3 separate regions of the Homo sapiens genome follow, and regions 1 and 2 are each linked to region 3. Evidence: fine-mapped expression QTL. A gene starts in region 3. Each other region holds a variant in brackets. All regions are shown on one strand. Distances are from middle to middle. Region 1 overlaps HS3ST1 (heparan sulfate-glucosamine 3-sulfotransferase 1). Region 2 has its middle 50 kb from the start of HS3ST1. Region 3 holds the start of HS3ST1 (heparan sulfate-glucosamine 3-sulfotransferase 1).

Region 1 (10,418 bases), 33 kb after region 3:
CTTTGTACAAATGAAGGCTTTTTTGCACTTTGTAGTAATTTCACTTGTTTATCCCTCCAGGCCTATTTCAAATGTTTCCTCCACTGTGAAACCATCCCCAATTATTTTAGGCAAAATGAATGAACATGTGTCTTCATAGTACCCTACCAAAATTACAATCATAACATATATCTCCCTGATGCCTACAGTCAGGCTGCGTCAATTAACTTTTGCCAATTTCCCGCTGCAATACAAACCACTCCAAAACTCAGGGGCTTAAAACCACAATCATGCATCTTCACTCATGAGCTGGGATGGCTCTGTGTGTCTTTCATCCTCCCTCTGGGACCATGGGCTAGCCAGGGCATATTCTTCTCATGGCAAAGCCAATAGTGAAAGAGGGTGAGCAAAAACACACAAGGCCTCTTGCAGCCAGGCTGGGGACTGATACGTTGTCACATCTGCTCATATGCTAGTAGCAAGGCCAATTCAAGAGTTGGACACAAGGTGAAGAATTGGGACTAATCATGCAATCTTTCATACTAATTCACATGCTCTGTTAGATTAGGAGCCCCTGGCTGGAAGAGTGGGGGCAGGAACAAAGCCTGCTTCTATATCACCTGCCCCTTTGCCAGGGACTGGTGAGTAGTAGATATTTTATTGATTTTTGCTGAGTTCCAAAGGGTCTTCCCAACCCTTTCCTTTATAGCAAGGGTTAGCATGCTCTGACTAGGGAGGCAAACCTGGCCTGGTTGTATGCAGCCAGCTAAACATATAAAATGATTGCAAAAAATAACAATAGTAAGAAGGAAAATAATATTTAATGACACGTGAAAATTATATGAAATTCACTCAGTGCCCATAAATAGAGTGTTCTTGGAACACAACCACACCCATTCCCTTGTGTGTTGTCTATGGCTGCATTTCATCTATAATAGCACGGTTGGAGTTGGAGTTGGCATAAAGTATGTCCCCTAAAGCCTAAAATACTTATTCTCTGGACTTTTGCAGAAAATGTTTGCCATCGGCTCCTGTATAGGATAAGAAACTGAGAGTCCTGGGGAGGTGAATATAGGCCTCACTACAGAGTGGCTACAGAGTTGTTAGTTGAATTATCCCTGTATTTGTTATATGTTAATATCTTCCCTTTTTGTTCCCTAGTAATTGAAGGCCTGAAACGCCCATGTGCCACTGACTAGGAGGCTTCCCTGCTGCGGCACTTCATGACCCAGCGGCGCGCGGCCCAGTGAAGCCACCGTGGTGTCCAGCATGGCCGCGCTGCTCCTGGGCGCGGTGCTGCTGGTGGCCCAGCCCCAGCTAGTGCCTTCCCGCCCCGCCGAGCTAGGCCAGCAGGAGCTTCTGCGGAAAGCGGGGACCCTCCAGGATGACGTCCGCGATGGCGTGGCCCCAAACGGCTCTGCCCAGCAGTTGCCGCAGACCATCATCATCGGCGTGCGCAAGGGCGGCACGCGCGCACTGCTGGAGATGCTCAGCCTGCACCCCGACGTGGCGGCCGCGGAGAACGAGGTCCACTTCTTCGACTGGGAGGAGCATTACAGCCACGGCTTGGGCTGGTACCTCAGCCAGATGCCCTTCTCCTGGCCACACCAGCTCACAGTGGAGAAGACCCCCGCGTATTTCACGTCGCCCAAAGTGCCTGAGCGAGTCTACAGCATGAACCCGTCCATCCGGCTGCTGCTCATCCTGCGAGACCCGTCGGAGCGCGTGCTATCTGACTACACCCAAGTGTTCTACAACCACATGCAGAAGCACAAGCCCTACCCGTCCATCGAGGAGTTCCTGGTGCGCGATGGCAGGCTCAATGTGGACTACAAGGCCCTCAACCGCAGCCTCTACCACGTGCACATGCAGAACTGGCTGCGCTTTTTCCCGCTGCGCCACATCCACATTGTGGACGGCGACCGCCTCATCAGGGACCCCTTCCCTGAGATCCAAAAGGTCGAGAGGTTCCTAAAGCTGTCGCCGCAGATCAATGCTTCGAACTTCTACTTTAACAAAACCAAGGGCTTTTACTGCCTGCGGGACAGCGGCCGGGACCGCTGCTTACATGAGTCCAAAGGCCGGGCGCACCCCCAAGTCGATCCCAAACTACTCAATAAACTGCACGAATATTTTCATGAGCCAAATAAGAAGTTCTTCGAGCTTGTTGGCAGAACATTTGACTGGCACTGATTTGCAATAAGCTAAGCTCAGAAACTTTCCTACTGTAAGTTCTGGTGTACATCTGAGGGGAAAAAGAATTTTAAAAAAGCATTTAAGGTATAATTTATTTGTAAAATCCATAAAGTACTTCTGTACAGTATTAGATTCACAATTGCCATATATACTAGTTATATTTTTCTACTTGTTAAATGGAGGGCATTTTGTATTGTTTTTCATGGTTGTTAACATTGTGTAATATGTCTCTATATGAAGGAACTAAACTATTTCACTGAAAAAAAAAAAAAGATTTTTTCTGGAGACGCTATGTTTTTTTGAATATAATTAACTTGCCCCCAACTCAAAATAGCTGTCTGTGTTGCAATCATTGCAAAATCTAAATTCTTTTGTTACTTAAAAAAACATGTTTTTCATGGCTATTACAATCCTCTCTCTCCCCTCTCCTTTCTGCATTGCTCTTTTTAATTTTTAATGTCTCATTGTGATCATCAGATTTATTTTTACTTGGATTGTAAGATTTATCTCCTCGGCGATTCCTTGTCATTTTTGGAGGTCACAGTTTTACTCATTCCCATGTGTAAACTTCAAGTAAACAAAGCAATATTCAGGATGGAGAAGCAGTTAGTGACTGGCTAGAGGTCTCTTGGGATCCATCTTGACCTCAAAGAATATTTGCACATGCTTCTGATCTCAGCAGTTATAATAAAGAGGATTAAACCCTTGGCCTTCAGAATGATCTTGGACCTGGATACTTTGCCCCAGGTGGCAGCTGGCCTCCAGAAAGCCAATTAGAATAGAAAAGAGAAACTGCGAAATCTATGCGTGTCTTCATCCTGTCGGTTCTGTGAAAGGCTGACTAAAAGGGTAGTAGTCTTTTGCTTAGTCTGAAAGTCTGCTTACTTCCTGAAAGACACATTGGCATTATAGACATATATTCCATATGCACTGAGACATAAATATGTGTATGTTTCAAAATCAACTCTAAATTTGGAGTCCTGAATGTGAAAGAAAAAGTAAGTTCCCAAGTGTTGAAGTTAAAAAGAGAAAAGGGCAGAGTTGAAGGTAGCACCTAAGAGAACCACTGTACCTGCCCCCAGAGGAGTGGCTGGAGTTCAGTTTTACTTCTGCCCCTGAGCAGCCAGCTTGTTGGAGATGGTCACATAAACCCTTCTTATCCTCAGTTTTTTCATGCATTCTTCATGCAGTCAGCCTTTTACAGAATTAAACCCATTGGATTTTAATAAAAATAAAACATTCATTACAGTAAAAGAGAAAATACAAACAAGCAAAATAAACCGGCTTCCTGACATGGTTTATACCGCAGGAAAATGACAGAAATGGACGTTATTAATCATCTCCTACACTTAAGAACTCATTGAAATTTCTCCAAGCAACCCCAGGATGCAGATATTATTATGGAAATTTCAAAGAGGAGGAATTAGGCCCAGAGAACATGAGAAACTTGCCCAAGGTCACATTGACTATAAACTCAGGCTTAGAGGCTACTCAGAGCCAAAGCACAGGTTATTTATGTATTTAGTTTTTACCCAACTCTTTCTGAACTCAAAAGGAAAAGCCCAGACTCAGAGCCAGTTCTTCCTGACCTGACTTAACATTTCTTCCCAGGTGCCAAATATCTTCCATCCTAAGAGGTGTGTCCCAGATACAGGAAGGGCAAGAAGAAGCCTGCATTTTTCTCAGCAGTGTTATCAGGGAAGTGAGTCACCTTGGTACGTTTCAGCAGCTCCAGCCTGACCTGACCTTAGCATGGCCTATGCCCCACCCCATATCATGAACAGAGAGCAGAGAGGATGCCTTCCTCTTTAGAATCCATTGAAGTTGTCATTAAGCCATCATCTCCCCCAGAGGAAGTAGCAGAAATATTTACAGCAGGCCCCTGGTGGACATGGTACTTTTCAATAGGCAGAGAGCCTCCCTCTGCAGCACATCGTTGGATCTTGCTTTTACCATACTCCTTGAAGAGCTGAAGAAATAAGAGGGCCCAGCAAGGTTAAGTCAAGTTTCCAAGCCTGTTCAGGAATATGGTGACTGAAAGGAAACTGCAATGAGAGTCTCTGACTGAAGAAGATGCTCTTTGCAAACTGCCTGTAAATTCCTGTCCCCTGACAGGGATGGTCTGGTAGAAGCATGAACTGTGGATGCAAGAGGCAGCGGGGAGGAGTGGAGGAAGACAGGACCAGCACATGGAATATAATCTAGCTGCTGGGACTGGCATAGTCGATGGAGGCGGTGGTCCAGTGTAAAATGATCAGTGAATGTAAATTCAATATGTTTTCATTTGGGGGTGCAGAGTCGTGGCTAAAGGAATGTTCAAATGAGTCTACCATGAGCAAGGGATCAGAGGTCCTAGTGGCACTATCTGTTCATTCATTTTTGGTACAACCCCAGCCAGTCATTGAGAAGGTACACTGTGTAAGAAACCATCACTCCAGACTTACCCAAGGTATTTATTGCTAGATCTCACCAAGCACTGTCAAATTCAAAGGAGGCCCTGTAGTAGACCCTGGGCTGTCCTTACAGGGCCAAAATGCAGTGACTCAGGAGCCTAATAGCACCCGGTCCCTCCAAAACATGCCTTCTACCAATTCCATTAACAGAGACAGGTGTCAGTGGAAGGGGTGGGTCTCCTGTCCAGACCACCCCGGCCCGGGAGCAGCCTGGGGGATCTAGGTGGGTCCTTCCAGAGAGGCAAGTGAGAACAACTGAACCAAGCCTCAGCTATTAGATTTGGAATATTCACACACTTGACACTCCAGAGTCAGAACAGCCCCTTCCCTTTCCCTTCCTCCTGGAATCAGATAGGGTTGAAATCCTTTTAACACCATTTGGTTATCAGCTCACAACCTGAAGGTTTGCAAGTTTAGGAAAAGTGACATGCCTCTGAGCACAGGGTGCTTTACTCCTTCTGTGCTTGGAGGCTTACCCAACTGAAAGGAGATGGAGGGCAGGAGAGGCCGATGCCTAGCGTGCCTGCTGCTTACAGGGGTGGTGTCACAGGTCACCATTATTCATTAAAATTT[TA/A]CTTTTTTGATCCCCTACCACATGCTCAACATGGTATTGAGTCCTCAAGAATATAAAAAGAAAATACAACAGGAACCAGTAGTCATTAACTGTTTGTTCTGGACTTTAATAAAAGTACAGAGGGTCTTGGAGTACAAAGGCAAAGACATTTAGCTGTGTATAGAATGGGTGGGGGAATGTGTTCCATGGTTTGGCATTCAGTTCAGCAACATTCCTGAGAGAAATCAACTAGCCCCCTTATAGAGAAGAGGAAACTGAGATTTAAAAAGTGGTCCTGGCCGGGTGTAGTGGCTCACGCCTGTAATCCCAGCACTTTGGGAGGCCAAGACAGGTGAATCACGAGGTCAGGAGTTCAAGACCAGCCTGACCAACATGGTGAAACCCCATCTCTACTAAAAATACAAAAATGTGCCAGGCATGGTGGCGAGTGCCTGTAATCCCAGCTACTCAGGACACTGAGGCAAGAGAACCACTTGAACCTGGCAGGTGGAGGTTGCAGGGGGCCGAGATGATGCCACTGCACTCCAGCCTGGGCAACAGAGCAAGACTCCATCTCAAAAAAAAAAAAAAAAAAAAAAGATAAATTAATAATAAAAAAATAAAAAAGTAATCCTGACTTCAAGTCATTTTTTTCAGAAGAAAGGATTCTTGCTCACTCCAGGGAAATAGTCCAGAAATGGAAAATGTTGACATCACAAATCACAAAAGAAGGTGAAAAATATCAGAGACCCTCTCCAGAATGTCATTTCTCAGAAATATTAAGAAATAGAGAATCTTCCCAGAGGTCGCATGTCAGGGCAGGTCACTTAACTTGTGGGCCACAGAGACCCTGACCTTCCTGTGGGAAGGCTTCATGGAGGAATTGCCATAAAGCTGGGGCACGCACGAATGGCAGTAGTGTCACCAGAGCAGGGCATTCTGAACAAGGGAAGCTTGAGACATGAAGACAGTGGTCACGGGGAGAGGCTGGGGGTAGAGGGTAGAGGTAGGCAAGAGATTTGTCTGAGTGGCATGTCAAATGTGTTAAACTCAATGAGAAGCTACTGCTTTCCAAGGCTGGAGTGTTGGAAGCTTACTTAGCAGGCACCCATGTGAATTTGGCTCCTGTGCAGGTGTATCTGTTGCATAAAAATAGCTATCATTTGTTGCACACCTGCCATGTGCTTGGTATTTTAAATATATTGCTTCTAACCTATATAACAACCCTAGGAAGTAGAAAATGGGCTACTAATTTTACAGAAAAATAAACTCAGAAATTAAAGGGCTTGCCCATGTTGATAGAGCCATTACTTCTTACAAATGAAATTTTGTCTCCGATGTCTCTGCTCCTTTTCAGTCCATCTATTTGTGGGTAAGTGGAGGAAGATATAAAGCATATGCATCTGTCTATTAGGCAGAGCCTGTAAGGGAAATTATGGGCATCTAGGATTTGGAGTTGGACAGTTAGGGTGATATCAAGATTACCTTCAAGCAAAGCAGTGGCTGGGATTTGATGCAACAGGGACGTGATAAAACATGCTCCTAACCGGCAGCAGCTCATTTCGGAAGACTGAGCCTGAGTTAAAGGCCAGAGCAACATAACAGAGTTCTCCAAACAGCACACAGTGAGAGAAGGCCAAAGCTAAAGAGGACATCATCGGATTTAGCTGCTTCACTAAAGTGTTTTGATGTAGAAAATGACCTTGGTGCTTTAGTTATCCCTGATGTCAAGACCTTTACTCTATTTTGCCCAAATTTCTCAGTTAGATAACAGCAAAGAGAGAGAGCCAGAAGACCTGGGTGTGCATCCTAGCTGTACCAATCACTGACCATGGGATCTTAGATTCAGACTCTGAGAACCTCCATTTCCTTCTCCATAAAAATGGGCAGATATGTACTGTACTCTGTTGGGGGAAAACTCCAACTCAATGAGATAAAGTAGGTAAAAACTATAAACCCAGTGCATATGTTACTTAGTGGTTAAAAACATTTGGGACTTTAGGAGACAGACCAAAACTGGTTTTGAACCAGTCGGCAGAAATGCGCTGCCTTTTTTCCTCCTCTGCTTCCCAGCTATGTGACTGTAGCTATTGCTGTTAATGCTCCATCCAGAGCTCATTTACCAGGGAAGTGCTCTCAACCCCAGCTGCCACAAAGATTGTCTTCTGTACTATTTTCTGAAGGATTTCTCTTAGTTGGCAGGAGTTTTCTTACCTGAAGATGCCTGAGAAATGTTGTCCACCCCACTCCCCTGCTTTCCTAGGGTTAGGGCATGACTAATGATTGACTGACCCATGTGGGATGGGGCATGGGGGTAGTAGGGTAACAGTCCACCCTCATTGCCTCCAGGCAGGACAACCTCTGGTGCAACTCATGCTCAGAGCTCCTCGTGAGATCAGGCTGAGGCTAGACTTCTCCTGAAACTGTACTTTTACTTATTTCTTCCGAAACTTCATCCTTTTCCCACATTACCTTACTCATTTCTTCTGCTACCCTATTCTCAGTAAATGTGTTTCCCAAGAAAACAGGAATCCCCCCTCAGACTTTGCTTCTAGACCATCCACTCTAAAGTCTTAACCTTGCATGCATGTTTTCTTCTCTCTGTATTTTACATGTATAACGTGATCAACCCACGGAGTTATTAGAATTCTTCCAATTAAATGAGATATAGCAGAGAATGAGTCTATTTTATTGGCTAGCAAATAGCAAAGTGTTAAATTCAATAATGGCTGAAATTGTTACCAAGTAGTAGGCTCTTTTATTAGCTTATCGGACTACCAAAATAGTATAATGCATCAATATCAAACTTAAATTTCAACTTCATAAAACAATTCTGGGCCCAACAAATATGAAGGTATTGCTCCATCTTATGTAGCAACATCTTGTATTTCTATTGTTTGATAAATATTCCACTTAGAACTAATACATGGATGTCTCTTTCTTTTGATTGCAACCCTCTGGCACTTAACACAGTGCCTGGTACATGGTAAGTAAGGAGTATTAATACTTGTTTGTGGATTGAAGGGTAACTCTAGACTAGTTGTCAGTTTTACGCGAAAGCCCCTTCTACCACATCGCAGCCTCATGATCTGGCCCGCCTCCTGGAAGTAGCCTTTCTGGCCCAGACACTGGTAGGTACTTTAAAATAAGCTGTTTTATGTAATCTTCACAAACCTCAGGGGAAATAATCAATTCAAGCTTCCTGTGTTTGTTTACCATTAGATCCACATCAAATAGTAACCATACTTGACATAGGAGCTATAAATATTTATTAATCGAACAGATCACCCTAATACCCAAGCTCTTTTCACTATGCCTTACTATATGACCTCTTCTTGAATATTGAACCAATGAATAGTTCTCCAAGGTAACCCATTATATCTCCAAACTGGCTATTGAAATTCATACTTACTGTACCTCGACCTACATCCCCCAGCTTTCTCTCATGCATCTGAGTTCTACCACACAGTGCCATAATGAACAGGTCTAATACCACTTTCTCATGTTGGCATACTGAAAAGAGCGCTGACCTCGGATTCTGAAGACATGAATTTAGAAGTTTATCTCAGCCTTTTTCACAGCTATGTGACCTTGGGCAATTTCCTTAACTTCTCTGAACTTCCAGTACCTTTCTGTAAAATAGGGATAATTATACCTTCTTCACAGAGATTCTATGAACAATTTATGGAAAATGGACAATGGACATATAAGAGATCACAATTTCATAAACTCTCCAAATATGTAAAAGTGAGTCTTTCTAATTCCTAGTTAGCTCTCATGGCTGGTATCATCTTCGACAGAAAGTAAAGGAATAACACTCATGTGTTTATTAAAACCTAGGTATTATATCATTTAACCTTCATATCAACCTATGAGACAAATGCTACTGTTTCGCTTCTTTTATATATGGATGGGGAACCAAAGCACAGAGACATTAAGTAATTTGCCTAAGGTCACATGGCTAGTAAATAGTAGAGCCAGATTTATCTCCTGCGTGTTCTCTTCATAAATAAAATGCTTTACCTCTAGGTTATAATGCTGTCAATGCAAAAGAGAATCTCTTCTACAACATGTTTGTTCATAAAAAGAGCTAGAACACAAAGAAGGCAAAGATAGAGACCAGAAACTTAATATAAATATCAGCAAAAAAGGCTGTGGCAGGCAGAATTCTAGAATGGCTCCCTTGGTTTCCACCCACTTGTGTACAAACCCTGCATAGACCCCTCGCCTTGAATATGAGCAGAAGTTATAAATAAGATGAGTCACTTACTCTCTTGGTTAGAGTACTTTATATGGCAAAGGTGATGGGCTATAATGACATTGTGTTATGTAAGACTCCAACTTAGCACACTGGGGAGATTCTTCTACTGGCTTTGAAGGCATCACCTGCCATGCTGTGAGAGGCCTTTGAGAGGGCCATGTAGCAAGGGACTGCAGTGTCCAGTAGTAGCTGAGAGTGTCCCCAGCCAATATCCAACAAGAAAGCAAAGATCTCAATATTCCAGTTTCAAAGACTAAATTTTTGCAACAACACGTGAGCTTGAAAGAGGGCCCCAAGCTCTGGATAAGAAAGTCATCTGTCTGAAATCTTGATCGCTGCTTGGGAAGGCCACAGCAGAGGTAGGATGTGATTGGACTCCTATCATAGGGAAGTTGAGAGAATAGGTGTATATTGGTTTAAGCTGCTAAGTTTGTAGTAATTTGTTAGGTAATAGGTAATTAATTCAAAGTGTAATTCTATTATCTAGTCTATTCATCTTGCCTCATGCTCACTTTTCTGTATGCTCCCTTGAAAACAAACGAAATGTATGGATTTTTGTTACCCAAGGAATGCATTTCCATTGTATATTAACCAGAGCCTTACAGCAAGATTATTCAGAGATGACAATTGTCAAATTTTAATTATATCCTTTGAGATAAAAAAAAAAAAAACAAAAAGCACATACACACAACTGCGGCTCCATCAGCTGATAGAGTTGAAAGGGAACATACCGGTCATTTTAGCCAAACTTCTTTTTTTATAGAAGGATTTGAGATCTGGAGGAGTAAAGTAATGTAGGTAGCAGCAGAATCCAAGGGAGAACTCAGAACTACTTCGTAATATCTATCACACTGCGTATCTGTTGTCTAATCCCTTGCTCTCCAAGTGAAGGTCTGTTGCTTACTATGGAGAAAAATGCACCACACAGTTCTCTGCATAAAGCAGATACCCAGCTGAGACTTGATTGAAATTATGC
Region 2 (10,418 bases), 49 kb before region 3:
TGATAATAGAACGCTAAATAACAAGAGTGATGGCGGCACAGGAAATCTCTGCTTTATCTAAGACATTAACTTTTGAAACAAGAAATAACTTAAAAATTAGAAGACTATGTCATGATTTTTACAAGAAAAGGAATAATTAGAAGAGCTATATTTATTACTCCATGTCAAGAATGTGAAATGCTACGTATTTCACATTATTATATTATTTAATCTTCACAACAAAACTTAGAACTATGTAGATTTTATGGATTAAAAAAATGAGGGCAAGAAAGCCAGAGTTCATTCAGTAAAATGATTTTTACGACCTATTCTAGTTTATAAATGAAAAGCAAAAAGCCCCTTCTGCCTTTTCTGGTACAACCATGACCTGTCTCTTGGTTTAACGAATATTTGCATTCCCAAGCAAACATTCTAGGCCTCTTTCCTGATAGAGTTGAGGAAATGATGGTGTCTAGAATAGAGACTTAGTCATAACCACAAGTCACTGTCTACCCAGCCACACGCTTCTCTGGCACATTTGGATTGTGTGATTTTGGACTTAGTTTTCTCCAGTGACAGAAATCTACATCAAACTGACAAAAGCCAGTGGTATTGTTAAGACCCATAACTCCACTGAATAAAGAACTTACTGGAAGCATCTTGTGTCACTTGACAGCTGAATCACCCAACAGGAAATATGTAGGGGTCTGCTGGCTATTAAAAAACTGGAACCAGGGGTTTAGAAATGGTGCCAGGATACCTACTCTATCTCTACCTTTCCTTCGTTCTGTGGTCTCTACATCATACTCTATGGTCTGGCTTCCTCCATGTGGCAGAAAACTTGTCTTCCCATGCCTGGAGAGAAACTGACTCGCATGCATTCTGGTCACAGGTTTAGAAATTGGCTCACCTTATGTTGGGTGCCCATCCCTGGGTCATCACCTAAAGTCAGAGAAATAGCTCTGTTAAGATCGGGGTACCTCCAATGCAAACAACACAAATGAACAGAAAGAGAAAAACATTCCAGAATAGGGGGAATGCTGATCCAACAACACCATTGACATACTGTGGGAGGGCGCTGTGGAGGTTCACAGCCAAGAGGCAAGGGAGAAGCTTCTGGTAAGTCGAACGCAAACATTCCGGTGCTGCATTTTCAAACTCGAAGTAGGTTATTGTCAAGACCTCAGAGCTTGCATGCATTCATTTATTCATTTCTTAGACATTTCCTGTGCTGAACTAGAAGAAAAAACAAGAATAAGATACGATTTCTACCCTCAGCATTTACTGCCTGCGTGGAGAAATAGACAACTATACTAATGATGTCAGCATTGCGAGCCCAGTATATTAACAAAGGCTCATGAAGGGTGGTGTTTTTCATGCTGTATGTTGAGACCCACTGGCAGGTCATTAAATCAATTTACTGGGCTGCAGACAGCACTTTCTAAAGGAATAAAATAGGCCAGAATATATCAGGGTGCGTTATACTGCAGTAAAGATATAAGAGTTTGATAAAACAACTGTGTTCTGATTGCATAGGAGGCTCTGTATATGCAGGTTTGTGTACCAGGTCATGCTGTAAAAGGCATTTCTGACTTCAGGTCATCATCAAAAATCTTTAAATGCCATCAGTATAGTGTGAGTAGGAGCACAGAGGAGAGACATCTAGATGAAATTAGTAGGAGGTAGAAGAGGAAAGGTTTTCAATGAAGAGATCTCATGCTGAAACTTGGAGAAGAAGCAGTCATTCCAAGAGAAAGAACAACTTGTGAAAAAGGCCCTAAGGAGTGAGAAAGGAGGGAAGATTGATAAAGACCTGTGGCTGCAGAGTAGCAGAAGGAGCCTGCAATGGGTCAGGAATAGGGCTTGAGTCCCTCGGTCCGCCAATGCAGGAGGAGGGGCTGATGTTGAAGAATAGGGAAATGGGGCACGTATTTATCATGGAAGGTAGAAAGTAATAATGATAATTAGGATAAAATGCTATGCAGCTTTAGAGTAGTACAAGAATACCGTTCCTTAGAGAACCAGAGAGAGCTTCATTGATGAGGCAACATTTTTGAGTTATCTGCAAATACTTTGAGTTTGGCTCAGGAATCAACTATGTAGTGTTTGTGTGGCTGGCTGTGGTGAATCAGGTAAGGAGAAGAGGCAGACATTCCAAGAAAGTTTGAGAGCCAGATAAAAGGGGGAGCTATCAAATTGGTACACAGCTACCCAAACCAATTGTAGTGCTTCTTTAACTGAGTTCTAGGTACAATGTCAAATAAAGTTTAATTCACTATTTGACATTGTCCTACATGCACAGTAGAGGACTGCATCCATAATCAGGCTGCCAGAACTTAAATCCACCTACTTTCTCTGTGAATTCAGCCTAGCTGCCTAGTCTCTCTGTGCCGGGGCATCCGTATGGCCACAAGTGGTATCTGTGGCAGCCAAGGAAGTGTGCTGCTCAGATTTTCATTTAAGAAAAGACTTGCCTTTTAGTTGCAAGCAGTGTCATTTGCAACCAGGCTTCAGCTGCAGAGTGTTTGGGGTCTACTGCAGATTTCAAGCTGACACTATGATTTGTCAGAAGCCCCTAATCAGGGACAGAGCACAGCAAGAGCATTAGGGATTGGCCATGTTTATCCAAAGTGGGGCTCTGCAAAAATGCCACCTTTTCCCTTGGGTTGGCCAATATCTTATCAGAGCTGTATCAAAATTGGAGGCTAACTCTACCAATCCTGCCTCCCACAGACTCTTCTGTTTCAAGCTATCAGATCTGCTTTGTGGTCTGAAGCCTTTCCTTGTGCAACTCCACTTCCTTCCCCTTTGTCTTTCACAGGCAAAATGTCCCAAGAAGCCTCGTGCCCTCCTAACAGTGTCTGAGCATCTGCTTCCCTGAATGAACACAATACCTAAATGTTGGGCAGCCCTAGGCCTCAGTCCTTGAACTGCTACTCTTTCAACTCTCATTTCCTGGATGAGTCAACTCAGTTTCTAGGGTTTTTAATACCATTCTTATATTAAGCATTGTCAAGTTTGTGTCTCCAGCCTGAGCAGTCAGCTGAACTCCAGACATATATATCCAACCCGTACTTATCATCTGCACTGGATATTTAATAGGAACCTCAGACTTAATGAGTCCAAGTCCGATCTCTTGTTCTTTTATCCCAAATATGTCCCTCCTTCAATCTTAAGCATTTTAGTAGATAGCAACTCCATATTCCTGGTTGCTCAGGGCAAAAACTCTGGTGTCATCCTTGATTTCTCTTGTTCTCTCATAACCCACATCCAATCCATCAGCAAATCCTGTGAGTTCCACATAAAAATACATACTGAACCTGAGCAGTTCTCATCATCTCCACCAATAAAACACTGTTTCAAGTCACCATGCCCTCTTACCTGGATTATTGTAATAGCCTCCTATTTAAACTTCTTAGTTCTTCTCTTTACCCACTCAAGCTATCCTCTTTACAGAAGCCAGAATATCCTTTTAAAATGTAAACCAGATCATTTTCTGCACAAAATCCTCCAACAACATCTGTCACTCAAAATAAAGCCTTAATCCTCAAAATAGCGAACAAGGTCTTACATGATCTGGCCCCTTCTTCACAATTGCTTATTGTTCACTCACTGATTTTAACCACACTGGTTTCGTTGCTATTCCCTAACTACTCCAATATGCTCCCATGTCAGAATTTTGCACATGCTGCTGTCTTTGCCTAAAATATTCTTCCCTAAGATATCTGAGTGGTTCCCTCTCCTATCTCCTTCAGGGTTCTGCTCACATGCACCCTATAAGTGAAGCCTTCTGCTATGTCTGAATGTCTGTGTCCCCCCAAAATGCCTATGCTGAAATCTAATCCCCAAGGTGATGGTATCAGAAGGTGGGAATTTTAGGAGGTGATTAGGTCATGAGGGTGGAGCCCTCATGAATGAGATTAGTGCCTTTATAAAAGAGGCCCCAGAGAGCTGCTTTGTTCCTTCCACCATGTGAGGACAGTGACGATGCCATCATGTGGCAGTGAGAAGGCACTATCTATGACCAGAATGCGAGTCCCTCACCAGACTTCGAATATGCTGGCACCTTCATCTTGGAATCTCCAGCCTCCAGAACAGTTAAAAATAAATGTCTGTTGTTTGTAAGCCACATGGTTTATGGGTTATAATAGCCCAAACAGACTGAGACACTTTCCCTGAACTCTCTATGCAAAATTGTACTCCCTAGAACTCTTTCTCTCTTCTCTACTGACACTTGTTTATAACATTCTTAGTATCTAATAAAATTGGCATTTTCAGTTTTTCTCATTTCTCTCCTCTCCTCTACTAGAATGTAAGTTCCAGGATAACTGATACTTATTTTATTCCCTATTGTATCTCTGATGCTGAGTTCAATATCTTACACGTTATGAACCCAGTAAATGTCAGGTATATAAATTAATAAATTAGGATAAGAGTGCCAACCTGGTGTAGGGGTCATGACTCTCAGATAATTGATGCAAATTACTTAACACAGTGCCCAGCACATAATAAGTACTCAACAACTACGAGCTTGTGTTAACCTTAGTAGTTATTCCTAGTCATGAATATATGTAAGGTAGACATTTAAATGGTAATGTCGATTCTCTGGACAAAACTTGACAGCAATTATTTGGTAGGGGCCCCAGAGTCCAGGCATCTCTCTATGAAATAATTTGTTCAAATTCTTTTACAGAAAACTTTAGGATGAAGCAACCCATGCAGATGAAAGTAACTAAACTTAATCTACAAAATTAGAACTCTAAGTAGTTTATCATATTTTTAACAAATGCATTGTACTATACTACTGTACAGTAGATTTCTAGTGTAAATGCCAATCTCTTCCTCAATAATGTGAGAAACTTTAGCCAGAGATAATTGAAAGACAAGACTCTGGCTTGGTTTGCCTGGATTTCTCCTCTTTCATTGCCTAAGACTGACAACTCTATTTTTTTTAACAGATATTTTCAGTGTCTACCATGTCAATGCAATGTCCTAGGCAAGGGAAATTTAACAGCTAACAAGATGATAGGCTTGGTTCCTACCTTCATAAAGTTTATAGTTTATCAGAGATAGGCTTGGTTCCTACCTTCATAAAGTTTATAGTTTATCAGAGAAGAGGGGCAATTAAAAAGGGAATTAGAGTCAAGAAGCACTATAATAGTGAAAGTTCAGGATACACATGAGAGAAACAACTAACTTAGCTGGAAGCTGGGAAGAAAGACGGGAGAAGATCTGTCTTTGCTTCCCAGCAGAAGTGACATTTGAGAAGATGTGTGAAGTTACCCTGGTAAAATTTTTTACTAGAAGTTATTTTAATATTAGTAATACATGCTTCACACTGGTTCAATAAGGAGCTTGAGTTATTCATGGAGTTTTTCCTTTCATCTTCACAGGTGTACTTTGGAGCAAACTTGCATTGCAATTATTGATTACCACTTTGAATTGTAATTAATTAGAGCTATTAAAAACATATATACATAAATATACATATGCATATATATATGTATACACACACAAACATATGTATGTTTGAGTGTATTTGTAAGCCTTTATAATTTATCCATATAAAATT[G/C]TTTACTTTTATTTTAGGAATAAATAAAATAAAAAATAAAATAAATAAAATAAAACCTTCACTTGTTTTATTTTATATAGATGAAGGTTTGTTATACAGGTAAACTCATGTCATAGGGGTTTGTTATACAGATTATTTAATCACCAAGGTATTAAGCCTAGTACCCAATAGTTATTTTTTCTGCTCCTTTCCTTTTTCCCACCATCCACTCTCAAGTAGACCCTAGTGTCTCTTGTTCCATTCTTTGTATTCATGAGTTCCCACCATTTAGCTTTGACTTATAAGTGAGAACATGTAGTATTTGGTTTTCTGTTCCTGTGTTCATTTGCAGAGGATAATAGTCTCCAGCTCCATTCATGTTTCCACAAAAGATGATATAATCTCATTCTTTTTTATGGCTGCATAGTATTCCATGGTGTATGTGTACCATATTTTATTTATCCAATTTGTTACTGATGGATAAACAATAGGTTGATTCCATGTCTTTGCTCTTGTGAATAGTGCTGCAAAAATATTTGTGTGCATGTGTCTTTATGGTAGAATGATTTGTATTCCTCTGGATATAGACCCAGTAATAAGATTACTGGATCAAACAGTAGTTCTGCTTTTAGATCTCTGAGTAATCACCATACTGCTTTCCACAATGGTTGAACTAATTTACATTCCACCAACAGTGTATAAATGTTCTTTTCCACAATGCTGTCAGCATCTGTTATTTTTTGACATTTTAATAATAGCCATTCTGACTGGTGTGAGATGGTATCTCACTGTGGTTTTGATTTGCATTTATCTTATGATCAGTGATATTGAGCTTTTTTCATATGCTTGTTGGCCACATGTATGTCTTCTTTTGAAAAGTGTCTGTTCATGTCACTTGTCCACTTTTAATTTGGGGTTGTTAGTTTTTCTCTTGTAAATTTGTTTAAGTTTCTTATGGATGCTGGATATTAGACCTTTATCAGACGCATAGTTTGCAAAAATTTTCTCCCATTCTGTAGGTTGTCTGTTTGCTCTGTGGATAGTTTCTTTTGCTTTGAAGAAATACTTAAGTTTAATTACATTCTATTTATCAATTTTTGCTTTTGTTGCAATTGCTTTTGGTGTCTTTGTCATGAAGTCTTTGCCCACTCCTATGTCCAGGATGGTATTGCTTGGGTTGTCTTCCAGGATTTTTATAGTTTTGGGTTTTATGTTTAACTTTTTAATACAACATGAGTTGATTTTTGTATATGGTATAAGGAAGGGGTCCAGTTTCAATCTTCTGCGTATGGCTAGCCAGTTATCTCAGCAACATTTATCGAATAGGGAGTCTGTTCCCTCATTGTTTGTTTTGTCAGCTTTGTCAAAGACCAGGTGGTCGTAGGTGTGCAGCCTTGTGTCTGGGCTCTTTATTCCGTTCTACTGTTCTATGTGCCTGTTTGTGTACCAGTGATATTTTTGTTTTTAAGAAAACTCCTGGCAAAGGAGTTACCTTGGTAAAGAGAGGGTGGCTCCAGGCAGATGAGAAATGTGTAAAAGGGCTTGGAGCCTTGAGAGAACATGAGGCCTCCAAGTCTTAAAAGTTCTGATAGGCATTCTTGAAGGCAAAACAAGGCTCATTTGTTGTGTTGCATGAACAGCTTATCCATAATGAGTAGAGTTTCTCAGAGTCCTATTACTAATTGCAGAACATCCTCAATTTGTCTTTAATAAGTGTTCAAAGTTAACTTCAAATATTAATAAAGAAGTGTTTATTTTTTGACAGTATACTCTGAAAATGTCTGCTAATCACTTTTAAACCCCAGCTAAAATTATTTATCTGTCTTCATGGCCATACAACTCTGCCTCATTCAATTCCATAGTTGGCCTTGAGTTTGAAAATTGACCTTGTTTCTAGGCTGGAGTATGTGCTTATTCTTCCTTCTCTTTATGGGAAAAGTTACTTGCCAGTGGAGACAGAACTGAACATAGATTCTGAAATAGACACAATATGGGAAACTTGATACTTCCTTCCACTACCAAGCCCAAGCAAGGGATGCTGTACAAGGCATTAGGTATCCTCCTTAATCCCGGGAAATACACAGTAAAAAGGAAGAGATAAGGCCTATGTTTGAGTCAGTTCATGCTGCTCTAACAGAATGCCATAGATAAAGTGCCTTAAACAATAGACATTTATTTAGCACAATTCAGGAGGCTGGGGTTCTGAGATCAAAGTGAATGCTTTCCTCTTGGTTTACAGATGGTCATGTTCTCATTGTCATGAGGACACGTCAAAGAGAAAGACTTCTGGTCATTTTTAGCCACTTAAAAGGGCATTAATCCCATACATCTGGGCTCTAGTCTCATGATCTAATTACTCTTCAAAGACTCCACCTCTAAATATCATCACATTGACATTTAGGCTTCAATATATAAATCTTGGGAAAACACAAGCATTCGGTGCATAGCAGAATATAAATATGAAAATAAAATTAACAAAATAGTAAAAATTATAAACTTCCTGAAATGAAGAGGGAATTGCCCAAAGAATGTAACAGGAAATCAAGAGAGAGAATATGAGAGTCTGAAAGAGCACCTCAGAGGAAGAACAATTTAACCTGGGTCATGAGGAAGTAATAGGATTCTGACAGATGTGTAACAGCTGGATAATCCAACATAGAGAGAGAAAAGGTGCCAGGGTGAGGACACAGAGGTGAGAAAGAAAATATAAGTAAAGAGGGACAGAGAAGCCTGCAATTAGTGTTCTGAGGATCGCAAGAGACCCTTGTACCCTTCTCTGTGCTTGCATGTATATTCTCATTCATTCCTTCAAATACGGAATGATTATTAAACGACTAGTTTTTTTTCAAACTTTTAGTAAGATTTTAAATCAAACTAAGAAAAGTATATTTAAAGAGGAAATACATGAATTACAATAATAAGCTATTTTTTAACTAGTTTGAGCTATTTAAGTTTGAAGCTCAAGAAATTACATGTTTAAGTGCCTAAGTAGTCTTCAGTTGACTTTTAATTAACCTCTTTTGCCATTTGTCATCCAGGGAAATTGGAAAATATTTTATAGTCCAACAAAAACTTGTTTTATAAAAGAATTAAGTGAATTTGAGCCACTTATGATAATCTTTCAAAACATCTGATATTTGTAGCTGAATCCGGTCAAATTGTATTTATTCTTTATCAGCCTTAGTTATCTTGGCATCGCTCTCGTATTAATAAGATTCAGACAAAGCCTGGCCTTGCAGTGTAAAAGTGATAGAGAAAATCATTTTCCCTAATCAGGCTGAATCTCATTTGTTGTGATTTTTTTCCTTTAGATTCTGATGTTTGCAGGTGCTTTTTGTGGGAACATTATTTAAAACATATCCTCCTGAGTGTACAACAGCCGCTTCATGAGGATTACTCTTCTATCCTCTTTGCTTGCAGTGGAAGTTTCATTCATTCAGCTTAAACTAAATTTCAATAAAGAAAAGGAAGAGGTTCATTTTTAACACTTATCCCCTTAAATAATAATAACAAGACTATGTTTAATTTGCCTAAAAATAGACATAGAGGTCATGGAATTCAGTTTTCACTTTGATGATGGTAAGGAGAGGCATCTAGCCTCCTTGACCTCCAAAATCAGGAGCTTCTTACACCACCCATGATAACTTGTCACCTAAAAGGATTCACCATTCTATTAGGGTAGGCTAGGTTGTCCTGCAGTAACAAATAAACTTTATAATCATGGTGGCTTAGCCCAACAGAAGTTGATTTCTTTCACACACAGAGTCTAATGCAGTTGGCCTAGGATCCTGGGATGACCCTCCCTCGAGTGACTCAAGGATCCAGGCTTGCATCACCTTATAATATAGCTCCTTAACATGTCACTTCTAAGGTTGCTTCAGCATGGGGACAGAGAGAAGAAAGAAGCAAACCAGATTGCAATTGCTTCAGCCTGGAAGAAACATGTGTCATTGTGCTTACAACTCATTGGCCAGAAAGAGTCACTTGGCCTCAACCTCACTGCAAGGAAGAGTGAGAAGTGAAGGGGAGCACATGGAATGTGAGGTGTGCAACAGCCATCCCTGTCTCAATTACATAGTTAATTAAATTTAGCTCTATACTAAGTCAAATACAGAAGTTCATGGAAAACATGGAATTTTTATCACATCGAAATCACTGCCAAAAAGCAAAGTATGCATTCTTTGGAGACAGAGTACTTTTACAGCCTGCATTGCCATATTTCAGGAATAAGACCATTGGCAGGTCCCACAGACACTCTGAGCCTCAATATCTTCATCTGTAAAGTGGAGAGAATGCTGACATAAGTCAGTTGAGAGCACTATAAGTAATGACTGCAAAGCACCTAATTAAGGGCCTACTAAATATTAGGTATCGAGTTTTAAAACTGGCAATTATAATTATTGTATCTTAATGACAACAATAAAATGGAGATATCATTATCATGGAAAATAATTAATTAATTTTGTTATATTTAATGTATCAAGAATAATGCAATAAATTTTCAAATAAAAGCATCCACGAGACTTCCTAGCTGAGTTCAGAAGCAGTTTTTGACCCTGCATTTAATTTACTGTTAGCAGCAAATATGGTATATTATTACCTTTAGAATTTCTCATTTCAGATGAAAAAAATGAGCTGTTAAAGTAATTGTAAAAATTTTAAAGGGCCTCAGTGAAAGCAGAGAGGAGAGTTTCCATGGCGATATCTGAACAGTGCAAGAGAACGGAAGAAGGGAAGGGGGGCATTTAGTGAGCACTTACATGATGTTAAACAGTGTGCTTGGCACTTTGCATCCAACATCAGCCTAAACACAGGAAAATGCTATGACATCAATATGATTGTCACAGTTTTATGGAAGAGCAAACATACTCAAAGGAAGAGACTCTCC
Region 3 (10,418 bases):
TTCCACCACAAAGCAGATTAATATATATATAGCCAGTTCTTATAAGTGTCATTGTAAACATTTCCAAAAGAACAGTGTTCCAAAGTCTATGGAAAGAGAACTCTACCATTGTGTAAGAGACTTCTTGTGGCATTAGTGCTATTTTAAATCTAGAATTAAAACAAGGCTTTGAAAGGAAAAGCCAGCACCATCAGTTTTCAGGGACAATAGGGACATACTCTAGAGGACTTCAGTGAGGACTCCAAGACAGAAGAGAGCTGCTAGAAACAGCATGTGCTGATTGAAGTTGAGAGTTCAGAGTAAGAGGTAAGGGTCTGAGAGTCACAGTTCAAATGCTCCTTGGACCTTCTATTACAAATGGAACTAGGGACTCATGAGAATGATTAGATTGAATTGTAATTTTTCTGTTAATGCACATCTGTGAGCTCCTAAGTAAGGGATTGAATTTCATTCTTCTTAATAAATCTCTACCCATGTACCTAGCACACAGGCTGCTATATGGGAGGTACCTAATACATATTGATTCAACTGAACTGATAGGCCTGCCAGGAGGAAAACTTTTTTTTTTCTGAAGAGTGTGAGGTTCCCAGTATCCTTGAATAAGGCCTAAAAGAGCAAATCATTAAGACCGACTCATCAAAAGATCAGCCAGCTTTGGTCCCAAAATCTAAAATCAAAGAGAGTGCCACAATTTTCCATCGCCCTGAAGGTATTCCAGCACTCAGCAGGGGCCAGTAATTTGAACAAGGGGACCACTTCAAGCCTGCAATACTGCAATTTTTCTAACACTGATGTGTGTAATTTTGGCCACAGTTTAACACAGGATAACAAATAAAAGCAATATTCTATTTGTCTATAGTTGTTTACATAACACCATAGACTATAAGCTTTTTTATGAAATTGTATTTACTGTGCATACTTTACCTAAATTAACTAAGCATTCCTCCTCTGCAATATCATCTGCACAGGGCTAAATTCTCCATTAGAAGTCTTAGGCACACTGCCCAGAGCTTATGGTACCTTGAGGGCTTCCCAAAAATGATTTAATTTCTTCTAAAAATCAGAAAAAGATAAACTTTTAGATTAAAGAAGATATTTAAATAAAGAAGAAAATATACTCACCTTTATACTAATGTAATCATAAGATATAATTTTAACTTGGCAAGGCAGGGAGCAGGATTCATAAAGGAAAACATCATAAAAGTCATAACTGGACCTCATAACCACATATGCCAAGATGTGTCAAATTTGGTGTCATAAAGTAGATAATCTTAAAAATCCTGTTTTCAGAAAAGAATCACTCAATTTGTCATAGATGGATGGATTGTTGTTACATACACAGAGACAAAATTGGGCGTTGGGACGGGATGGTTGGGGAGGCATGAGATGGGTGAGCTGAGTTGGAAGGAACAACAATCCTCCATGTTTTATGGCTGTGACCCTCATTTCCCCTCTCACTAGCGGACTGCTCTAGCTAATTAGCAAATCAAAAGAAATAGAAACAATTCTAGACCTCAGCACAATCAAATTAGTGGAGTTATTCGAGGATATCATTTTCACACAGTGCAATCATGCTCTCTTTGTTTTGGTCAAACGAGTGAAAATTATCTTTCAAACCCAACGCCCTTCCCTCTACCCAACTGGCTCTGTGGATAGTGGCATTTCCTATCTGCTCTCATAAGTTTTACAGATGATCTTTTTCTATTAAGACAGGAATGTGCAATGCACAATTAAACAATACCCAACAAGCTTCCCTTTTAAAAATACATTTGACTTTTAAGGTGATTCAGCAGTAAGAGCCATTAGTACCTCATCTAAATCAGGACTTGGAAAGTTTATTAAAATTGGATTTTTAACCTGATCCCAATTTCCTTTGTGGATAAAGAGTCCCACTGGAGTCTTTAATATTCATGCTATTAACCTGAAAGATTCAAACAGCCATGATGGGAAGAAAGGCTATACAGGGCTGCCCACTAGACTGGGGGTTACAAATAAAACCCCATTGAGTCTGAGCAGGTAGACTACTGTGGATTCTGGACATCTTCAAAAGAAGCAACTTCTCTCTTTTTCTCTCTCTCCCCTTTTCCTGACCTCCCGTCTCCTATTACATATTTTGTGGGAAAGAGAAAAACCAGAAAAATAGCAAACATAAGCATATTACTTAATTACATAGAGCACTAGACTAGGAGTCTAGTTTTTACTGGAAGGGTAGCTTCCTCCTCTAGTGCTCTAATGAAATCCCTCAATTATAAAATAGGGAAGTCTGGGCTAATAATCTCTAATATTGGTTGAGAAGATGCACTTTGGAGTCAGGTGAGAACTCTTTGAATATCAGCCCTACCACTTATTAGTATGTCACCTTGAACGAGTCACTAAACTCTCCTAAACCTCCGTTTCCCCATTTGTAAAATGAACAAAAGGTGCAGCTCCTATGATTCATTTTGCATAGTACCTGGCACTATAAGCCTTAGATACACTTTAGCTGGTATTATTACTGATTATTGCCCAAACTCATAGGTCAGTTGCTTTTGTTTCTATTTCATGCCTTTTCACTCCTTGAGCCTTTATCTTCTTTAGAACAGTTTACAACTGTGTTAACTCATGTCTGTGCGTGTCTGTAAAGGTAGGCTAGGAGTGTTTGCCTTGTTTTTCCTTGAGATAAGATTTTATGCTCTCTTAGGGCAATGGAGATATCTTATTTTTTCATCTCTCTCTTAGTAACTGGCATAGTGTTGTACACATACTAGGTGCTCAATAAAGACTTCGAGATCTTAAAATATTAGCAGTACAGAGATCTTCCACTAAAACCCTCTCATTTTTCAGTTGTTGGAACTGATAAAAAGAGTCTTGGGCCACACAACTGACTGACAGACACTTTTGCAGTCAACTACTACTGTGTCTCCTAACAGCCTCTATTCTCATGCCCACGGCTTTGAAAGGGAAACATGTTTGACTTAAACCCTGACTCCTTGAGGGAAGTTCCATTTACAAAGTTTTTTTTTTTTTTTTTTAAGAGCATAGTATGTTTCAGATACCATGCAGGATTGTAGGATTCTGGGATTCAGATACCATGGAGGATTCATCATTAAATCACGATACCCAAGCTCAAGGCGTTTATAATCTATTAGAGAAGACAGATCCCTAAATAGATGTTTCAATAATGTGATTGTGTTGTCATAGGAGAGCTAAGCTCTGGCACTACATGAGCTTCTGGATAAGAAACCTAACTCATGACCAGAAGACTTCAGGGAGAGCTATTTAGGAGCAGTGGCAAATGCCTGGACATACACATAAAACTAAGTAAGAACAAAATAGCCAGTTGGTGTTTTTATTTATCTGAATGTAAGAACATAGATTATCGATCAATGAACAATTGCTCAGATTTAAAAAGAAATGAGGAAAACTAAAATGTTAGTCCTCAAATTCCTGTCACTTCCCACATGTGCCCTGCAGTCATTTCCTGCAAATGGAAACTTCCAACAAAATCTCTGGGCTGGAGACCTGGGGTTCCAGTTTCTTTCAAGGTCTTGTGGTAGGGAACTAAGTGGGTGAGTAACCTGCCTTTGGCTTCCAGGGTGCAAACAGAATCATTGCTAACCCCCTTTGTGTCTCACAATGGGTAATGAAATTCATACTATGGCACCAAAGCACTTTGAGCTCTTTAGAAAAAGTAATCATACCAACTTAGAGCATTAAAACCACCCCGTATTTTGAAGGACTCATGATCTGCACTGTGCTTGGCTGCTGGTGGAAGCTTAAAGACACCAGTAATTGGCAGAACTTTATCTTAGACTTCCATTTGACCCTCACAACCTCACACATGATTTTACACAGCTTCCTATAATGGGGGAGAAAAGCCCTTCTTTTAAATCTAATGTTAGTTTAAATGCTAAGGCTTTCAAAGTGGGCCTTTAAAGTCACTTTTTAGAATTTGTATTTTTTTTTAACCTAAAATAGACATGCCAACATTATTCTGACTAAAAGAAGTAGACAAGGTCATTCAACTCCTAAAAGCTTATTTTCCAAAAGCACAGTTAGGTCTCAGCTTTCAGGGTGCTTCTGGCTGTATCAAAAAGACAGAATATACTGGTCACTGTGTTGTTTTCTGAAAGTGCCGAGGGTAATCTGTGTATGAGTTAAAGGGCCAATTTCCTATAGGAACCTTCTCTTAGATGGGATTTTTTTTTAATTAAACAATGTTGGTGAAATATATTTAAACGTAAATCACAAATTCGAAGTCTTCCAAATATTTATTTACTAATGTGGAAGACATGGAAACTACAGTAATCTCATTTAAAGGAAGTTACTTTGATGTGCATTTGCTTTTGGCGGGGTATGATTGCTGACCTGCCTTTGAGGGCAACTTCCTTTGGCTCAGGTAAGCAGGCAAACCCGTTTCTCCAAGGCGATTCCAACCCCACGCCCCTCAAAACCTTAAATCTTAAATTGAGTTATTGGGTGCAGGTCCTTTCTCCCACAGAACCTCCCAGCTTCCGGAATAGAGGAGCGGGGCAGAAATATCCTGCTTTTTATTTCAGAGCTGACGTTTGCAATCCTAGTGCACTAGCGGAAAAAAAAAAAAAAAAAAAAAAAAAAAAAAGCTGAATTTTCCGCGCTCTCCTGGCAAATTGGCGTCCGCTCTCCGACGCTAAACCAAAGGAAAAGGAGTGTTCAATGGCGACAGGGCGCTCTTTGAAGCCGGCTCCTCACGCGGATTCTGGCCCAGGCCGCCGCTCCGGTCCCAGTCCGGCTGCAGAGCGAATTGGAGAGGATGGCACCTCCTGCTTCCCGGGGGGCGGAAGGAGCGCCAGCGCCTAAGGTGGGTCACCTGCCAGGAAGGGAATACGCATGGTGCAGACTCACGTGGGAGGAGCACAGGTCCCGGGTACAAGTGCCGAGCTGGCGACTTAGAGAAGAGGTAGACTCGGGCTCAGACCAAGCAGGCGTAAGGGAGTAGACGGGACGTCCCGTGTTTGCAGTGACGGCGGAGTCACCCATCCCAGCAGCCTCACCTTCTTGGAGCGCTGGTCCCTCCCCTTGGACTGAAACCCCAGGGGCCACCGCACCGGGTGGGCGGGACCGACTACTACCCGACCAGCCGCTGGAGCTGCGTGCCAGGCGGGGCTGTGCGGAGCAGCTGAGCGCAGAGCGGAGCACCAGGCACCTAGCGGGCCGGACTCTGGGCGGCACCCGAGCGGGCCGGGCAGCAGTGGGCGCTCGCGATCCTCCTCTGCCCAACGCGCTCTCCCTCCGGGCCCGGCCTCCTCCGTCCCCTCCTTTTGCTCCCGCTCCTCCTCCCGCTCCTCCCCCTCCTCGGGATTGAGCACCAAAACGCCCGCCTGCAAGGTCCTCTGCGCCCTGGCAGCCAGGAGTCGCCGCCACGACAGCCGGGTCTCAGTGGGTGCCTGCGCCTTCTCCCCGCCCGCCTGCCCCGGGCCATCCAGAAACTTGCTCTACCCGCCGCGGGTGCTCGGCAGTGCTGCCCATGGCCCAGCCTAGGAGCCTATTTAGGGCGCCGGACGGGCTGGACAGAGGCGCGGCTCAGGTGAGTGCGGCGCGCGCGGGGTGGGAGAGTGGCAGGACGCAGGTGTAGAGGGCTCCGAGGTGCCTTTGTCTGGCGTTCTGGACTTCGGGCAAGTGCAGAACCTAAGAAGAATCGAGGCTGGAGCAGGTGGAGTGGATGCAGAGGGAACCAGGAAGCAAAGGCTGGGGATTTTCCCATCCTCCTCACCTCCTGCCCTAGCACCTCTGCTCTGGAAGTCCCGAGGGACCGGTTGATCTGTAAGGACAGGGACCCAGATTTCTGACTCTTACTGGGTTGGATGTTTTCCCCCCCTGCAGAGTCGTGAGGTTCGCTCCTGCCGGCCGCTTCGCGACCGCAGCTTCACCATAGGACCCTGTAGGGCAGCGAGAGCGCAGCACTCAACGGATCCTGGGTACCACCTGGGGCCAGAAACTGGGGCGAGGACACAGCCCGCAAAAGTAACTCGGCTGAGGGAGCCTTTGGGGGTGGAGAAGCCTTGGTCGGGTTTGCCTTTGCATTTGGTTGGAGATAGGCATCTCCCAAAGAGAGAGATTGAGGTGACAGCCCTGACAATAAACCTCTCATCCCTAATGCCAATTACATGAGGGTCTTGATTTTTTTCTTGTTACTTTTTACTGATTTTTTTCCCCCTTCGTGGTTTTCTATTTCCGGGCCCTTGGGTAGTGGCAGCGGATGGAGGTGAGGGATGGCGGGGTGCGAACCCGCGGTTGGAACGCCTAGACCCCAGCTCCCAGGAAGGGTCTTATTCGCGGAGCTTGACCTCTCCAGGTGCGCTCTACCAGCCAGGGGGCGGACGGCGCGCTGCTCCTCCTTCTAGCCCCAGCCTGTCCCAGGAAGCGGAGGACAGACCCAGAACGTAGGCGGATGATGGGAAGAAGAAGCTGGAGCCAAAGCCGGGTGCCGGCGCGGGATGGGGTGTGCTGGGCTCTGCAGTTATAGGTCTATAACTCTGCAGTTATAGGCGCTATAGGTCTTCCATCTCTTTCCCTCCCCTGGGAGCCAGCGATTCCTCGCACACTCAGGGCGCTCTCTTGGGCCAAGGGTTGCATCCTCCCTCTTCCTCCTCCTTTGCAGATCCAGTGGTACCCTTGCCTCGCCTTGCGCGAGTCTCGCTCCTCCCTTTCCCACAATGTTATCATGAGCTATTTTTATCTACAACTTGTGCCAAGATGCTTTTGGGGGGATTCTAGGGAGGCCACTCCAAATCCACTGTCTTTGCGCTGCGCTCCGAGAAACAGTCTCCTGTTAGCATGGAGCAGCCTCAAGGAGTGGCGGGGAGGGTGGCCGAGAACGGAAGGAGCCAGTCCGCCCTCTTCTCCTCCCTCAGCCCTAGCCCCGGAGGGAAACCCCGCCACCACCAGCTCGGCTGCGCCTCCCGCCAGTAGCCCCGGAAGAGGGTCCCCAGACGAGTCCCCACGCTCCCGCTTTCAGGCGCTGGGTGCTTGGACACTGCTGAGGCAGCAGCCTGGCACAGGCAGGATCCTTCATTCCCACCCGTGCGTTCTCGCTTTGCAGGCAAATCTCATTTTATTTTGTTGAAATGCTTCCACCCAAGGGTTAATTCCAGGAATTCCATCTTTAAAAAAAAAAGAAAAAAAAAGGAGGGAGAAATAACCCAACTTCTGCCTCCCTGCATTTCTAAAGCAAAGCGCATCCTTTGACGTTCGGATTTTTTTCTTGCTTTCTGCATTCCTGGTAATATTGGGTAACACTGGGTGCAATTAGAATAAGCCTTACCTACTGAAATTCCAGGAGACGCGCGCTCCGCTGCAAATCCCTGCCTTACCCTTCCCGTTGTACATCCAGCGCTTAGATTTTCCCCCACAGGATTGCAGAAATAACATATTGAAATGGACCATTGTGTTACATAAGGTTTTCTCCAGCGCTAAGCAGAGAAAGAACAGCTTCTAAAAGAGTCTTTCCAGGTTTTGGTTAGCCCATCTAACTCTTTCAGCTGAGTTTGACAGGGATGGACAACTTCATGACTAAGCACTCTTAAGTGGAAGCAGTTAATTACAACAGCAGCATAGATGAAGATTCCTTAGTGAGGCTTATTAAGCTGTGCTTCTAGACTGTGGATCCTCTGTGATGCCACAGGGTATACAATGCTCTGTAGTTTTAAGATAGGAGATTTTTGTTCTGAGAAGCTGGTGAGAAATTGGCATCTTGAGATGGCATCGGAAAAAGCAAAGGGTTCTTTACTTTCCTGTGGTTATGTCTAGAATGAAGCCTCAAGCCCCCCCCCTGGGTCCCCCTAAAAGTTGGAGCATGTACTTTTCTTATTAAAATAAGAAATTATTTTACTGGAAAAATCTTGTGAGGGTTGGGGGGGGGGCCTCTGAAGGGAAAAGCCACATGGAAGCTTCTCTTGCCTTGAATTGAAACTCGATGGTGACTAGGAAGGGGCTAGAAAGATGGCCTGGGTGGTGTAAATTGCTTCACTCATGCACACTGCCTTTCTGAGAACATAGCAGCTACCCACAATGGCATATCCCCACCGTGGTTGCTAAATCATGTCTGTCTATGGGGGCTAAAGTTTGGAGGAAGGCACAGTAAGATGTATCTGGTGTCCTGATGAAATTGAGCCTGTAGGCTGGGTCAGTGCTCAGGCACCAGGTTTCCGGGCCTGCATCTAAGCCTGGGTCCCTGTGTTAGAGACAGTTGTTGCAGGAGAGTGGTAACTTTTTAGCAGCTTCCAGGGAAATGCAGTAACTTTCCAGCTAGTGCTGGAAAATATCAGGGCTATTCCCAGTTTTTTTCCCCTCAACCTGGCTACTTGACCTGGTGCTTTCAATTGAGGCTGCTCTTTTCTTATGGCAGAAGGCAGGAGAGTGCTAGCTGGATTTAAAGCCAACTTCTTGCCCCATGACCTTGGGCAACAATTTCTCCCTCCCTGACCCTAAATTTCTTCCTCTGCAAAACAGTGATGAAAAGATTATTATAAGAAAGTGAGAAAATGTATATGAAATGCATCTTGCCGATTGGAGAACACTTGTGCAATTGTAAAGGGTAAAAAATACAAAAAATTAAGTTTTATCGTAGATCTATTTTAATGTTCATTTTAATCATAGTTTGCATATGTCTGAGTAAATGACATATGCTAAACATTAAGTGGGAGAGATTTCTTTTAATTGGCCAGTCTCTTCTTGTGATCACTCCACCTGAATGCTACAAGCACCGGGCCTCACTACTTCTCAGAATGATTCCTTTCTTGTTTTCAGGATCACAGTCAATTTTTAGAGTGTTTTTCCTTTTAACATAATACACATTACATGTCTTAAGAAAATCTGTTTGAAGAGAGGGCCCTGATGTTAATTAATAATTTTTTTAAAAAAGGAGAAAAGTCACAAATGGGGAGTGACTCCACTGGGGAAAAGTAAAACATGACCAGTGTCACGAGATGACCCGGGTCCCCCTTGTCTGAATCTTTCATCAGCATAATGCACTGGCTCCTCATCATTGCATTTTAGGTGTTGTTCCAAACGTGTCTCCAGAACCTAACTCAGTGCCTGCCTGGCACTTAGACATTCAATAAGTATATTTGGAATAATTGAATGAGTGATTGGACTGAATCTTCACAGCAACCTTGGAGAGCAGATGGCGTCATTTCTATTTTAAGGATTTGGAATCTGCCGATCGGAAAACTTAATTAATTTTCTAAAGGTACAAAGGATTCCAGACTAGAATTCAGGCCTGTCTGTTCTTATTCCACTCTACAGTCGTGCTTGTAGTGCCCTCTCTCTTCAGACTCACTTAAAACCCTTCTAAGCAGTTGGAACCAAACATCCTATTTAGGGAACACAACCTTCCCTTCATAGAAGGATTTTTTTTTTTTTTTGTGGGAGATGGGCCTCTTTCTCCTTGTCCATATCTCCCAGCCCTGAACTAGGGCTTAGTTGAATGATCCCACCTGGGGCCTGGAATCTTGAAAGACTAGCTAAAGGGCACAGGGACATTGGAGTGTTTATTTACCACCTTGGATCATGGATCAAGTGGCGTTGGCAGCAGTATGCATGTCCCAAGCTGTGGTCCCAGAGGTGCCTTTTCTGCAACACCATCTTGATGTGCCTCTGGTGCCCAGGTTCCTTTCATTCCTTCTCATTTTCCAATCCTGGCTTTTCAGCTTCTCAGCAATTCCTAGAGGCAACCCATAGTCTTCAAGTGAATTCCCTTTCTCCCTGACTTAGCCAGAATTGCAACCCACTGATGTACAGCTTCTCCCCATTCATCTTCAGGCCTGTCTCCAGCATGAAACATCCTTAGCTTCCTCTACCCATGGGGAATGAAGTCTGTAGCTTTTTCAGATCGTTAGAATAATATCTACTGGGCCGTAGTTTGTCAATAGTTATGTGCTACTACAAGAGGTCTAGAAAAATGAATACATTATTCTTCCAAGCAATACTCTAAACATAACAGAAATAGATCCCAGTGGGCATCTTTCTTTTTCTCTAATACATTATGCTTTTTGGTAGTTTTCCAGCAGGGGTCGCAAACTCTAATGTCTTCAGCAGCCAGGCAAGTAACAGCTTGAGTGGAACAGGACTTGGGCCCTGTGCCTGGGTAAGTGGGGGTTGTAGCCCAGATCCAGCACAGGGGCTGCAGGCGGGACTTCAGGTCTGGTCTTGCCAGACCTGGTTATGTTTTTTTTTTTTTTTTTTTTTCAAGATAGACTGTCAATTCACAGTTTTATGTAAAATCTACTCACTTTCAAGTGCCAGCAGCTAATTCGATATTCCTAAATAACACCATGTGGGCCAAACCAAACATTTCTGTGTGTAAGCCTTATATCTGTCACACAGGCCTCCAATGTATGGCCTCTGGTTTCCAGGGATATGAGGGAAATTTGGAATATGAAATTCAGGAGGGCATGTTG

The links. PIP is the estimated chance that this variant, and not a neighbour inherited with it, causes the effect. A credible set is the group of variants that fine-mapping cannot tell apart.
Region 1: its variant is the best candidate, but not a certain one, in a credible set for the expression of HS3ST1 in cerebellar hemisphere (GTEx, PIP 0.75).
Region 2: its variant is the best candidate, but not a certain one, in a credible set for the expression of HS3ST1 in esophagus mucosa (GTEx, PIP 0.51).

The regions. Positions count from the first base shown.
Region 1 is chr4:11,390,836-11,401,253 of GRCh38, reverse strand. HS3ST1 (heparan sulfate-glucosamine 3-sulfotransferase 1) reads left to right here. Exons shown (of 2, transcript NM_005114.4): 2 at 1,141-8,104. The coding sequence starts at 1,249. The coding sequence ends at 2,172. Among named protein-coding and RNA genes, the nearest start is that of MIR572, 27 kb to the right of the region's middle. RefSeq lists an enhancer at 3,270-4,469. The variant TA/A (reference allele first, on the strand shown) is at 5,202.
Region 2 is chr4:11,473,318-11,483,735 of GRCh38, reverse strand. No RefSeq gene overlaps it. Among named protein-coding and RNA genes, the nearest start is that of HS3ST1, 50 kb to the right of the region's middle. The variant G/C (reference allele first, on the strand shown) is at 5,552.
Region 3 is chr4:11,423,826-11,434,243 of GRCh38, reverse strand. It overlaps HS3ST1 (heparan sulfate-glucosamine 3-sulfotransferase 1), which reads left to right and starts at 5,350. Exons shown (of 2, transcript NM_005114.4): 1 at 5,350-5,545. RefSeq lists a silencer at 5,205-5,384 and an enhancer at 5,475-5,694.